4 linked regions of the Homo sapiens genome follow. The protein of the gene in region 1 purifies or fractionates together with the protein of each later gene. This does not show direct contact. Each region holds a gene or a part of one and is shown in the gene's direction. Other genes may lie near its edges.

Region 1 (3,500 bases):
GAGGACTAGAGATAGCTAAGTAACATAGTTCCACCTTATTCACTTGGTCTTTGATGTGGTGTCCATAATTGAGTAAATGGCAGTATGTCCAATGGCAACACCATGAACTTGACTTTGCCCTCTTGTCTAGCCCTCTCCATTTAGACTTGGAAGGGTCAGCAGTAAAATTTCACTGGCCCAGTCCAGGGCTGCTTGAGTGTTACTGTTTTGTGCCACAATATGATGTGGCCAGACTACTTTTCTAGTTTCGAGATTATTTTGGAGCTTTATATTGGGTATGTTCTTATCCAACTATCATTAGGGGCATTGATCTCTGATGCCCTTTTCTTTCTTATCTTCCAAATGGCAGGCAGTAAATGGCTTATTAAGCAAGTATAAGATTCAAGATCTCAGCCCCAAAGATACATTTGTAGATGCCAGGCTTAACATTCCTGAGGCTCTCAGAGAAAACTTTTCCCTCTATAGACTCCCCATTTTAAGAAGGAGGCACAGGGCTTGGTTGGCCCATTTAGTTAGTGACACACCTATATTACTCTCCTTGGCATCTTACCCCAGCCCATCCATTGGGTTGTGTCAGTCTTTTATTTCTAAGTGAGGATCCAGTCAACAGGAGGCACAAGAGATAGAACCAAATACCATAATGCCTCCTTCTATTCCACTATGAACAGTCAAGGACACTGGAGGCCTCTGGGTGGGACACATAGGCGTTCAAGAGCCTCTGAGCTTAAAGATATGTGAGTGGAGCTAACTAGACTGTCCAGGTTTGGTCTACACTGTAATTTTTTTTTTTTTTTTTTTTTTTTGGAAGCAGAGTCTTGCTCTTTTGCCCAGGCCAGAGTGTAGTGGTGTGATCTCAGCTCAGTGCAGCGTCTGCTTCCTGGGTTCAAGTGATTCTCCTGCCTCAGCCTCCAAGTAGCTGGGACTACAGGTGCCTGCCACCATGCCCAGCTAATTTTTGTATTTTTAGTAGAGACGGGGTTTCACCGTGTTGGCCAGGCTGGTCTCGAACTCCTGAGCTCAAGTGATCCTCCTGCCTTGGCCTCCCAAAGTGTTGGGATAGCAGGCATGAACCACCGTGCTCAGCCTCTCTGTAAATCTTGAGTCGGCACTGAGCTCATGAAAGCTGTGCTGAGTGGGTTTCTTTAGATTTTCATTTTCATGTTTGCCCCATTTATGCTAATATTAATTATTGGAAAATAATTCACCTACTTTGCTTCTCTCTGACCAACATAGGGGCAGGATCTGTGGAAAGACATTTACCACCTGTTTGAAAAGGTCAGCGTGCTGATATTCACTAACTACTACCCCCACAACTCCCCCTCCCCCAAACCTGATAGATGCTATAATTTCTGCAGTCCAATCACTATTCTTCCCAAACTCCATGAGCCAGATTTTATACATACTTTGCGTGACCATAAAACTCTGTACTATTATAGACATAAAACCATTTAATTTCATAGATACCTTCAGTGGTGGCATCACTGGGTCCTCTCTTGGATAGCATAGTCCTATGACCAAATGGGTCAGTCGTTGATCAGGCTTCATGAGAATATGATCGCTGGGAGAAATATACAGCTAATTTAACAACAAATGACTGTCCTAATTCTGGAGACCTGGGAAGTATTGATGAGAGTATAGTGATCATAAGCAGACATTGGGTGCTTTAGCAAAGCCAATTTGCCTGCATCCTCTGGAAGGTAAAGAAGATCTCCTCTCTCTTAGAACTTAATCAAACTCTTGGCATCCACAGAAGGCTAGGAGGATGTAATGAATACTTACCATTTTTGTGGAAGCCCACAACCTTTTGAATGGCCTTTCTATACTTTAGTGAACCTCCATGTTATGAACCTTACTTCCTCAAGTCTCTTTTGCTGCTAGGAGGCAGACAGTAACTTCGGTAATTAGAAACATCTGCACTCAGCAACATGAAGCACAAGTTCTGTGCAGTTGTCCATATGCTGTCATGAGTTTTGCCATATGTATCATCTGGCTTTCAGAGGACCTTTCATGGTTGTCAGGTTAAGTTCCTGATACAGAAGTGGCATCAGTGCTGGTGTTAATGGCTGCAGTAAAGTCAAATTCCTAGATTTTAGTGCTCTGTGGTAGCAGAGAGAATGGTGGTAGTTTATTTTTTCTTTCCTTTTTTTTTTAAAAAAAAAAAAAAACCTTTTTCATGTTGAAGTTCACATGACCTACAACTAACCATTTTAAAGTGTAATTCAGTGTCATTCAGTACATCCACAATGTGCAATCACCACCTCTGTCTAGTTCCAAAACATTTTTATCACCCTAAAAGGAAACCTTGCACCCATTAAACAGTGGTAGTTTCTCTATCATGCCACTTTTGTAGCATGCTTTGGGGTCTTATTCCTGGGATCTTTCTCTACAGTGGTATGATTATATAAGGGTGGAAATATAAAAGAGTAAGCCTTTAGAAACAGTTTGTGTCTAAATTAGCTCTCAGGCATATTGTCTTCAAAGGAATGTTTTAAACCAGCCAAAGACTAACATCAACATGCTTACATTTTGAGTCCAAAATTAAAATCCAAAATAGCCAAGCATGGTGGCTCACGCCTATAATCCCAACTACTCCAGAGGCTGAGGTGTGATAGAATTTCTTGAACCTAGGCGTTCCAGGCTGCAGTGAGCTATGATTGTGCTGCTGCACTCCAGCCTGGGTGACAGAGCGAGGTTGCTTCTAAAACAAAAATTTGAAATAGTAAGTGCTTTGATTTTTTTTAATATAGAATCAAACAATTGTGAAAATATAATTGGCTAAGTTTCATATACAGTTCTTTCTAAAACTCCTTCTGTTCTCTAAGATGTAGTTTGAACCAGCCAAGGATGATGGCTTCAACATGTCTCCAGTTGTTTTGCCACTCCAGGGCCTGACTCAAACCAAAATAAGACTTGCTGTTACCCTGAGACAAGCCAACTGTCATTGCTTTAGCAACCACTACGGCTACAGGTTGTTGCATCATGCCAAGCTCTGTGTTCTTTCTAACTAGTAGAATGGAGTGGGATGGTATCGTGATGGTGAACCCAAAACAATGGTACTAGGAAGGAGGTTGGCCAAACTCAGAGTGGAGGCTGACCCTGTATCTGGTTGTAGCAGAGTCGGTCCTAGGGGAACAGGCTCAGCAGCAGCAAGGATGCAAGGACCAGAAGGCAGCAGGGGAAGGAAAAGGAGCAGGGGATAGGGGAACTTTAGGAGCAGAGTAGTGTTGATAACTGGCATCTGGAACCTACAGTTTCCAGTTCAGAGCAGTACACCATACTCAGTGTATACTTACACTCCAAGACATTTCCTGGGCAGTGATCTAGAAATGATATTTTTAAAAGGAGCTGTGTTTCAGTGTTAGACTGTAGTTATCCAAGCAGTATCAGATAGTGTGCAGTTTTTGTAGTAAAAGGTAAAAATCTGAATAATAAAGTTTATTAATAACAGTTTTAGTTAATACTTGACTGACATTGAGACCCTTGATGCAAAAAGGTAAGTA
Region 2 (3,974 bases), on another chromosome or scaffold:
TAAAATAATTATTTTAATTCAATTTAAATAAAACCCACCAAGGAGACTTCAAGCTTTAAGAAGTCTAGCTTCCTGTGAAATGTGAGAGGAAGTCAGCACTCATTTCAGAAATCTGATTATAACAATAGCTCCATCCCTAAATGAGGTGAATCTTGGAATCTCTTCCATTTTATTTTATTTTATTTTTTTGAGATGGAGTTTCTCTCTTGTTGCCCAGGCTGAAGTGCAATGTTGTGATCTCGGCTCACTGCAACCTCTGCCTCCCAGGTTCAAGCGATTCTCCTGCTTTGGCCTCCTGAGTAGCTGGGATTGCAGGTATGCACCATCACACCTGGCTAATTTTGTATTTTTAGTAGAGACGGAGTTTCACCATGTTGGTTAGGCTGGTCTCGAACTTCTGACCTCAGTGATCCCCCCACCTCGGCCTCCCAAAGTTCTGGGATTATGGGTGTGAGCCACCACACCCGGCCCCCCTTCAATTTTAAAGCCATCACTATGCACCCTATGTCTATGCCAGGCACTAAAATAAGATGAAGCACCTTCTTGGAGTTTACATGCTGGTAATTATGCCAGACAGTAATAAAATAGGTAAGAACGGCTGTGGGGGAAGTCAGCTGGGTTCTAGTTACAGTCGCATTTCAGGAAATGATTTAACATGCTGACTTTAACAACCTAAGCCTCTTCTCCATGTGTGCACACAGGGTAGATCTCTGAACACAGGTGACCCTAGAAGTGCTGTAACTTCTAGGGGAATGGCTGTGTTGAGTCAAGGCAGGATGACAGTTCAGCCTCCTCCCAGGCTAGTGCAAAGGGCTCTTCACTCGGATTAAAACCTTCTCTCCCAGACCGAATTGCCAACTCCCAACACCCCTCCTACAGAAAATGTGGAGTCCTCGCTTATTCCCTGGCAGCCCCTACCTAATAGGGTGGTGAATTAATTATCAAACATGCGACAGTTTAGCGAAAATGGCAACACTTTGGAATAAGTGACTGTAATGTGCATCCTGGCGCCCATTTTGCAGGTCAGTTGCTCTCCCTGGAAGGAAGAGTGTTCTCGGATTTCACCTTAAAGGAGGAAGGCTGCCAGAACTGAACTAGCACTTCTGAATATCCTGAGGCGAGGTCCGGTGACTTCCTTGGGAAGCTCTGCCGCGCCCCCACCCCACCCTACCCCACCCTACCCCACCACAGCAGGCGCTGGAGTCCTGGGACCACCAGGGTCTGAGGCCCAAATCCTTCCTCACTAAGGGGAGGAGAGGGGTGTTCCGGCAGGGCAGGATGGGAAGGCGTGCTTGGGCGGGATTGTGACATAAGAGTGCCCTGGTGACATGGAGCAGATCTGTGACATAAATAAAGGTGTCATAAAGACAGGGCGGGGCTCACGCTTAGAAGGGGCACGAGCGTCTCGGAGCTGCCAGAATGTCTTCTGCTCAGTGCCCGGCACTAGTGTGTGTCATGTCCCGGCTGCGTTTCTGGGGCCCATGGCCCCTCCTTATGTGGCAACTATTGTGGCTACTAGTTAAGGAGGCTCAGCCTCTGGAGTGGGTCAAGGACCCGCTCCAGCTCACCTCTAATCCCCTGGGGCCGCCTGACTCCTGGTCTTCCCACTCCTCCCATTTCCCACGGGAATCTCCCCATGCGCCTACTCTCCCAGCAGACCCGTGGGACTTTGATCACCTGGGGCCCTCTGCTTCCTCAGAGATGCCAGCCCCACCCCAGGAATCGACTGAAAATTTGGTTCCATTCCTGGACACCTGGGATTCAGCTGGAGAGCAGCCCCTGGAGCCAGAGCAGTTCTTGGCTTCACAGCAGGATTTAAAGGACAAGCTGAGTCCACAGGAAAGACTCCCTGTTTCGCCCAAGAAGCTGAAGAAAGATCCAGCTCAGCGTTGGAGCCTTGCTGAGATTATTGGAATTACACGCCAATTATCCACACCTCAGAGTCAGAAACAGACTTTGCAGAATGAATATTCCAGTACAGATACACCGTATCCCGGTAGCCTGCCTCCAGAACTCCGGGTGAAGTCAGATGAGCCTCCAGGGCCCTCTGAGCAAGTTGGACCTTCTCAATTCCATCTAGAGCCCGAAACTCAAAATCCAGAGACCCTTGAAGACATCCAGTCCTCTTCACTCCAGCAAGAAGCCCCAGCACAGCTTCCACAGCTCCTTGAGGAAGAACCTTCTTCAATGCAGCAGGAGGCCCCAGCTCTGCCTCCAGAGTCCTCTATGGAGAGTCTAACTCTACCGAATCATGAGGTGTCAGTTCAACCTCCAGGTGAGGATCAAGCTTATTATCACTTGCCCAACATTACAGTTAAACCTGCAGATGTGGAGGTTACCATAACTTCAGAGCCTACCAATGAGACAGAATCTTCCCAAGCCCAGCAGGAGACCCCAATTCAGTTTCCAGAGGAGGTGGAACCTTCTGCAACCCAACAGGAGGCCCCAATTGAGCCTCCAGTTCCTCCTATGGAGCATGAACTTTCCATCAGTGAGCAGCAGCAGCCAGTTCAGCCTTCTGAGTCTCCTAGGGAGGTCGAATCTTCTCCGACCCAGCAGGAGACCCCAGGTCAGCCTCCAGAACATCATGAAGTCACAGTTTCACCTCCAGGTCACCATCAAACTCATCATTTAGCTTCACCCAGTGTCTCTGTGAAGCCTCCAGACGTGCAGCTCACCATAGCAGCAGAGCCTAGTGCAGAGGTGGGAACTTCTCTAGTCCACCAGGAGGCTACAACTCGGCTCTCAGGGTCAGGTAATGATGTAGAACCTCCCGCCATCCAGCACGGGGGCCCACCTCTGCTTCCAGAGTCATCAGAAGAAGCTGGACCTTTAGCAGTTCAACAGGAGACTTCATTTCAATCTCCGGAACCTATTAATAATGAGAACCCCTCTCCAACCCAGCAGGAGGCTGCAGCTGAGCATCCACAGACCGCTGAGGAGGGTGAGTCTTCCCTAACCCATCAGGAGGCCCCAGCTCAGACTCCAGAGTTCCCTAATGTAGTTGTAGCTCAACCTCCAGAGCATTCACACCTGACTCAAGCCACAGTTCAACCTTTGGATCTGGGGTTTACCATCACTCCAGAATCCAAGACAGAGGTTGAACTTTCTCCAACCATGAAGGAGACCCCAACTCAGCCTCCTAAGAAAGTTGTACCCCAACTTCGAGTATATCAAGGGGTAACAAATCCAACACCAGGTCAGGATCAAGCTCAGCATCCAGTGTCACCCAGCGTTACAGTTCAACTTTTGGACCTGGGACTTACCATCACTCCAGAACCTACTACGGAGGTTGGACATTCTACACCCCCGAAGAGGACTATAGTTTCTCCAAAGCATCCTGAGGTGACACTTCCACATCCAGACCAGGTTCAGACTCAGCATTCACACCTGACTCGAGCCACAGTTCAACCTTTGGACCTGGGGTTTACCATCACTCCAAAATCCATGACAGAGGTTGAACCTTCTACAGCCCTGATGACTACAGCTCCTCCTCCAGGACACCCTGAGGTGACACTTCCACCTTCAGACAAGGGTCAGGCTCAGCATTCACACCTGACTCAAGCCACCGTTCAACCTCTGGACCTGGAGCTTACCATAACTACAAAACCTACTACAGAGGTTAAACCATCTCCAACCACGGAGGAGACCTCAACTCAGCCTCCAGACCTGGGACTTGCCATCATTCCAGAACCCACTACAGAGACTAGACATTCTACAGCCCTGGAGAAGACTACAGCTCCTCGTCCAGACCGGGTTCAGACTCTGCATCGAAGCCTGACTGAAGTCACAGGTCCACCTACTGAACTAGAACCTGCTCAGGATTCACTGGTGCAGTCTGAAAGTTACACCCAAAATAAGGCTTTAACTGCACCAGAGGAACACAAGGCCTCCACAAGCACCAACATATGTGAGCTCTGTACCTGCGGAGATGAGATGTTGTCATGTATTGATCTCAACCCAGAGCAGAGGCT
Region 3 (3,500 bases), on another chromosome or scaffold:
TGCTTTAATAGAAGAACTCTGTAAATTCTAACATTTCATTTATTTAGTATTCTATATAATTATACAACATTACTTTTTCTTTACGAGAAAAAGATCTTCATAAAGTAGACCTCTTCATTCTTAAACATTTTTTCCTTTAGTTTATCATTGTCAGAAAAGAATCCACAGTGCTTTTTTTAGGGGGGGGCGTGCGGAGGTGGGTGACGGAGTTTTGATCTCATTGTCCAGGCTGGAGTGCAATGGTGCAATCTCAGCTTACCGCAACCTCGGTCTTCTGGGTTCAAGCGATTCTCCTGCCTCAGCCTCCTGAGTAGCTGGAATTACAGGCATGTGCCACCATGCCTGGCTAATTTTTTTGTATTTTTGGTAGAGATGGAGTTTCTCCATGTTGGCCAGGCTGGTCTCGAACTCCTGACTTCATGATCCGCCTGCCTCGGCCTCCCAAAGTGCTGGGATTACAGGCGTGAGCCACTGCGCCTGGCCTGCTTTTTGAAGTACTGATTTTAAATTCCTAGTGCAGTGTTTCTGACTCTGTTGCCTTGACTCCCATTTACTGTCTCCTCTTTCATTTACCCTAAAAATTGGAAGACAGTCTCACTGATGCTTTCTAACTAATGGTCTTCTGCCCTTGCAAAGATAATAATAGTATGTACCCTAATTAAGATCAGTCATCATCAGAGACTCGCATGAATCAGGCCCCACTGTGTAGGTTAAAAACCTACTGACCTGTGAACTCTGCATACTGTTGGGCACACAGTGAATGAAAAAAAAATTTTTTTTTGGTTGGTTGGTTACTAATCCTATATAAAAATCTAAAATTTCAGATTCTCTTGAAAAATCTAAAGATTTAGTAACATTGGGCCCATATCAGAGTTATTTAATACTTCCCTGAAATGCAGCAAGTTCCACAGTTGTTTCTGTCTCTTAGCTTTAATTTCTAGATCCAGCCTGTTTTAATCTGTACTAATCAGGCTTATTTTCTTTATCTGACCATGTAGTAATTTGTTTACTACTTTGCATACAAGAGATATACCATTAGTCATGTAATCTGAGGTATCCTATATATATAATAAATATATATAATTGTGTATACATACAATTCAACCTCAGCAAAACAACCCAATTAAAAAACAGGTGAAGAACTTTAATAGCATTTCTCCCAAGAAGATACATAGATGGCCAGCAGGCACATGAAAAATATGTTCACCGTCACTAACCATTAGGGAAATGAAAATCAAAACCACAATGAGACACCCCTTCATACCCTTCAGGATGGCTAGTATCAAAACAAACAAACAAACAAAAACCAAACCAGACCCAGATTATAACAAGTGTTGGCAAGGACATGGATAATTTGGAACCCTTGTTGTTGCCTAGTGGAAGTGTAAAATGCTGCAGCTACTGTGGAAAACAGTATGGCAGTTTCTTAGAAAATTAAAATTACCATATCATCTAGTAGGTCCACTTCCAGATATATATGCAAAATAACTGAAAGCAAAGACTGGAAAGAGATATTTGTACATCTATGTTCATAGCAACATTATTCACAGTAGCAAAATGGTAGAAACAACTCATAAGTCCAAAATGCTATGAAATGTGATTCAGCTTTTTAGGAAGGAAATTCTGATAAATGCTGCATGGATAAACCTTGAGAATATTATGCTCAGTAAAATAAGCCAGTCACAAAACAAATAACTGTATGATTCTACTTATGTGAGTTACCTAGAGTAGTCAAATTGACAGAGACAAAGAGAATGGTTACCAGGGGTTGGGAGGAAGGAGGAATGGAGAGTTACTGTTTAATAGATACAGAGTTTCAATTTGGAAAGATGAACATTTCTGGAGATAGATGGTGGTGATGGTTGCACAATAGTGTGATTGTACTAAATGCCACTCAGTTGTACACCTAAAAATGCTTAAAATGATAAATTTTAGGTATCATTTGCCACAATACAAAATATATGAAGAAATGATAGAACAAAATATACGAAGGAAACAATTGGTAGTTGTGATGAGCACCCATGTGAAAGTAATTAGTTGAAATAGCAGCTCTTTCCCCTAATTAATATTTATTCTTATTAAAATCATATTTAGAAATAGTAACTAAATTTTTACGAAAGTGTTTAAAGAATAAAATAAACCAAATTGGTACAGATTATTTGACTGTGACCATCTGTGGGAGTCATTTTAGCTTTATTATAAGATTTTTTTTTAATTATTTGCGAAACTGTTGACATTTAGATCTATTTGAATCAAATGTAAGTGTTAATTGGTTCTATTAACCTTCATATTTTTTTCTTAGGTTCCGTTTAAGTCCAGCTGCCCGCAATATTCTGGAAAAACACTCACTGGATGCTAGCCAGGGCACAGCCACTGGCCCTCGGGGGATATTCACTAAAGAGTATGTGTTTGCTTTTTGTAATAACCAGTTCCATTATTTATTATGATCATGTTTTTTTGAAAGAAAATAAAAAGAGCTTATTCAGTCTTAAGATTTAAAAGGAGGTACACTGTTCTTCTTTTGTACTTTTAATTGCTTTTATCATTGTAAATTGTATTCTATGCAAGAGTTGTTTTCTGAATAATTATAGCATTACTGAAGAACAGCTCTAATTTGGTAACTAAGCAAGATCCTTAGAAGTGGTAATAAATGCAGAAAATTAGAGCGTAGAACAGTGAAACTTTATACAGTATTAAATATGTGAAATCATGCAATAACATTTACATTTCTAAAACAAGGAAATATATTTTTAAAAAATTATTTTCATTATCCCTTTGAATTTTATTCACTTGTGCTGTTATAAAGCAATTTCCATATACAGTTTGGTCTCTTTTTAGATTTTCTTTTCTATTTCACTGATCCATCTGTCCATGAGTTAGTACCATACTTTTTTAGTACCACACTTTTAATTAGAAATGTTTTATTGTATGCTTTAAAATCTGATAACAATAGCTTTGCTCTTTTTTTAAATCAGTTTTCTTAGTTCATTCTTATTTTATTATTCTTCCAAATGAATTTTAAGCAGTTCGTCTAGCTCCATGGGTAGGAGTGAGGGGTATTTTTATGGGATTGTATCACATTTTAAATTAACTTTGTGAGAACTGACATCTTTATCATGATGGGTCTTTCTGTTCTGCAACACTGGTTTAAATGTTTGTGTCTTTCCATTAGTTTAAATGTTTGTGTCTTTCAAAACAGATGGCCCCTGTTCTGTTGAAACTTAGTCTAGTAGGGTAGACAAAGATTAATCAAATAGGCTTATGAACTAATGTAAGATTTCAGTAGTGTTATGTGCTACATTTTTATTGGCAGTAATAGTAAATGTTTCAAATTGAGTTTATGTTTTAAAGCAATGTACTCATTCCATATTTATCTAATATTGATAGGAAATAAAAAATAATATTGGCCAGAATTTTTGTAAGTCGAGAGAGAGCAATGGTTGTTAAATTATAAGTGGCAGTGTTGGGCCAGGCAATGTTTTCTTTTTTCCACTGGGTTA
Region 4 (3,500 bases), on another chromosome or scaffold:
ATTACAGAAGCATAAATCAGATCCTGTGCTAGCAGAAAGACTAATGGAGTGATCAATTTGTGCTAGAGGAAAAGTTAGGGAAGGTTCAATGGGGAGATGAAGATATTTCAGTAGTAGTTGTGTAGAGGGCAAGTGGTGTGAGAGAGATGTGGAAGGTCTTCTAGGCTGAGGAGATAAAGTGTTAGTCACTGAGATAGGAATACAAGAGGTGGAGCTGGTTAGAGGTGGTTAGGCGCACACAATGGACAATATAGAATTCTGTTTCTGTGTGTTTGTTGAGTTGTCTCTGGAATATCTAGGTAAAGTCTCCAGTAGGCTACTGGCAGGTATGAAACTCAGGAGAGAGATCTGAGCCAAAATAGACATTTAAAGAATTAGTTGTATATGGTGTTTGAAGAGTACCCTTAACTGAAAAAAAAAAAAAGGTTGTATAGAGGTCAGAGTTGGGACATTGGTATGGATTAAATGACTGAGGAAAGTGTAGTGTAGTAACAGAAGATGGCCAAGAACATCAATGTTTGAGGCAGAGATGGCAGATGCCTGGTCCATATGAATGTCATAACTTTTCCCTTTTGTCTATTGCAGATGTGGCTCATTGATCACCACCCTGTTTCCCAATGAGTCCAATTTCCGTTGTGATTTATTTTTTGGATTTTTTAAGAAGCCTGTTGCTTGATTTCCAAATGTTTGGGGATTTTCCAGTTACCTTTTTGTTACTGATTTCCAGTTTAATTCCACTGTGGTAAGAAAACATAATCTTTATGACTTCCATCCTTTAATTTTCTTTTTTAATTTTTTTTGACACAGAGTTTCACTCTTGTTGCCCAGGCTGGAGTGCAATGGCGCTATCTCGGCTCACTGCAACCTCCGCCTCCCTGGTTCAAGCAATTCTCCTGCTTCAGTCTCCCAAGTAGCTAGGATTACAGGCATGTGCCAGCCACCACGCTCAGCTAATTTTGTATTTTTAGTAGAGATGGGGTTTCACTATGTTGGTCTGGCTGGTCTCAAACTCCTGGCCTCAGGTGATCCACCCACCTCGGCCTCCCAAAGTGCTGGGATTATAGGCACCAGCCATTGTGCCTGGTCTCATCTTTAAATTCCTTGAGACTTGCTTTATGGTCCAGCCTATAATTTATTTTGGTGAATGTTCCATGTGCATTTAAAAAGGATATGCATTCTGATCATGAGGAACCAATTACAATACTAAAAAGTGCTTTATAAAATACAATATTCAGTTGATAGGTTGAGAAAATAAAAACATACTTGCAGTAATACTTAAATAAATAATAAATAGAATATGCATTCTGTTGTTGGGTGTAGTGTTCCATAAATGTCATTTAGGCCAAGTGATTAATAATGTTTTCCAATCTTCTCTTTCTTTACGTCTATACTTGGTCTTTGCCAGAAGGCTGAGAAAAAATTATCCTTATCCTGTATCCTTCTTTATTTTTTCCTACTTCTTCCATTATTTACCAAGAGAGCTACTTAAAGCTATTAATATCTAGATGTGATTGTGCATTTTTCTATTTCCACTTTTAGTTCTGTCCGTTTTTGCTTCATGTTTATTTCCCAGCTCCCTCCCTGCCAGGTCACCATTATGGGTTTGCTGTGTTACCCAGAAGGAGGCTTCCTAACACAGTGACCCTCTCTGCTTGCTCTCTCCCCTTGCCCCTTCAGGCCTAGGGGCGGTAATGACTTTCTGTTATTGCTAGTCCTAGGATACTGCACCATCTTTTTTGGTTTCCGTAAACTCTGCTATACCTTTGTAAATAGTTCCCTTTTTGTACTCTCCTCAGTTACTCAGTTTGAATGTACTGTCTTTCAGAAATGTGAGGTATGAATTTTACTTTTTTTAAAAAAAAAATGGACAGCCAATTGTCAAGTTACCATGAATTTGTATAGTCTGCCCTTTTTCTAGATTATTTATTAGAAGGATGATGTCGGTCAGCTCTAACACTCAGGGAATGTTTGTAATGAGAACCTGTGCCTGAAAACGTTTTTCTTATGTTCAGATTAATTACTCAGTATCATTTTGTCAGGAGGCCAAATAATTACAGTCTTTTCAGGAAGTGAAATAACATTTGTAAAGACATCCTATTTGAAAATACTGTAACTATAATTCTTGAAACTACTCTGTAATAAAAGCCAGTAGATAATATCACTTATATTTGTAAGCAAGCTTATCTTTTAAAAGAAAAGCTACTGTAGAAAGTAGCTAATTTATAGGTTCTTTCCTGCATTAAGGAAAATAGGGCGAGATGACCAGTCAACCAATACCTGGCAGTAACTAAGATTGTACTATATGAGGCACTGCTGACCACCTGTTTTTTGAGGGTGTTAGAACTTAAACGACCAAATGATCTCAAACATGCATTAGAGATCATCTGGAGGGCTCATTGTAACACCGATTGCTGGACCTTAGGGTTTCTAATTCAGTAGGTCTGAGGTGGGGCCTGAAGATTTATATGACTTACAAGTTCCCAGGTGACGTTGATGCTTTGAGAATCTCTGTGATAGATTGCGTGAAGACAAAGAGTTAATTGGACAGGGGAGGAAAAGGGAGCGGTGCACGGGTTATGGAGGAGCTTTGCAGGCTTTTGAATTTTGGTCCTCATCATCTTTTGCCTTGCTTTTTTCTGGCTGCCAGTTTTGGACCTAGCAGGGATTTAGCTTTGTGTGTAGTCCTTATCTTCCTCTCTCAATTTACCACATACCTGTAATAAATTTCTTTATCTGTTAAAAACTCTGTTATGGATTTACAAATTTTCTCATTTGTAAAATTTCTGTCTCATAGGATTATTTTGAGAATGCAAAAAATACTTAGAAGGTAGTAAGCATTCAACAAATGTTGGCTATTGTTATTAGTACCATGATTTAAGGCCTTAGTGTTCAAGGTATCTTGCTAGCTTTAAACTGGCAGTGCTGAAAGATGAGTTTTGCACGACTACTTTTTTGGAGTGTCTCTGAGCCCTTTCCAAATGAAATTCTAGATGCAAATGGTATCACCATGCCTATTTTGCTGTTAGAGAGAGCACAGCGGGGAGAGATTATTCAGTTTAGTCCTCGGCTTTAGAAGATCACTCGGAAATTAAGGTTACATTAAAAAATAGAACTGTATAGAACTTACTGAAAACTTTTGCCTGCTTTTGCTTATTTCATGTAGGAATTCTTGGCTTTTATTTTTTATTTATTTGAGACGGAGTGTCGCACCGTTGCCCAGGCTGGAGTGCAGTGGCGTAATCTTGGCTTGCTGCAACCTCCGCCTCCTGGCTTTAAGCGATTCTCCTGCCTCAGCCTCCCAAGTAGCTGGGATTACAGGTACGTACCACCACGCCCAGCTAATTTTTGTATTTTTAGTAGAGACGGGGTTTTACCATGTTGGTCAGGCTGGTCTCTAACTCCTGACCTCAAGTGATCCGCCTGCCTTGGCCTCCCAAAGTGCTAGGATTACAGGCGTGAGCCACTGCACCTGGCCAGTTCTTGGCATTTATGCCACTGGG

What was found. The genes of interacting proteins can lie anywhere in the genome.
Region 2: the proteins of PDK1 (region 1) and LRRC37A2 purify together in Homo sapiens (affinity purification with mass spectrometry; one large-scale study listed by BioGRID and IntAct). This does not show direct contact.
Region 3: the proteins of PDK1 (region 1) and PDHX purify together in Homo sapiens (affinity purification with mass spectrometry, with the first as the bait; 2 studies listed by BioGRID). This does not show direct contact.
Region 4: the proteins of PDK1 (region 1) and VWA8 purify together in Homo sapiens (affinity purification with mass spectrometry; one large-scale study listed by BioGRID and IntAct). This does not show direct contact.

What each region holds. Positions count from the first base shown.
Region 1 is NC_000002.12:172,604,590-172,608,089, forward strand, and holds part of PDK1 ([Pyruvate dehydrogenase (acetyl-transferring)] kinase isozyme 1, mitochondrial isoform 2 precursor), read left to right. Parts: 3' UTR 1-3,500. UniProt on the Homo sapiens protein: Kinase that plays a key role in regulation of glucose and fatty acid metabolism and homeostasis via phosphorylation of the pyruvate dehydrogenase subunits PDHA1 and PDHA2.
Region 2 is NC_000017.11:46,511,294-46,515,267, forward strand, and holds the start of LRRC37A2 (leucine-rich repeat-containing protein 37A2 isoform 1 precursor), read left to right. Parts: upstream 1-1,174; 5' UTR 1,175-1,419; coding exon 1,420-3,974.
Region 3 is NC_000011.10:34,958,118-34,961,617, forward strand, and holds part of PDHX (pyruvate dehydrogenase protein X component, mitochondrial isoform 1 precursor), read left to right. Parts: intron 1-2,302; coding exon 2,303-2,401; intron 2,402-3,500.
Region 4 is NC_000013.11:41,951,110-41,954,609, reverse strand, and holds part of VWA8 (von Willebrand factor A domain-containing protein 8 isoform a precursor), read left to right. Parts: intron 1-3,500. UniProt on the Homo sapiens protein: Exhibits ATPase activity in vitro.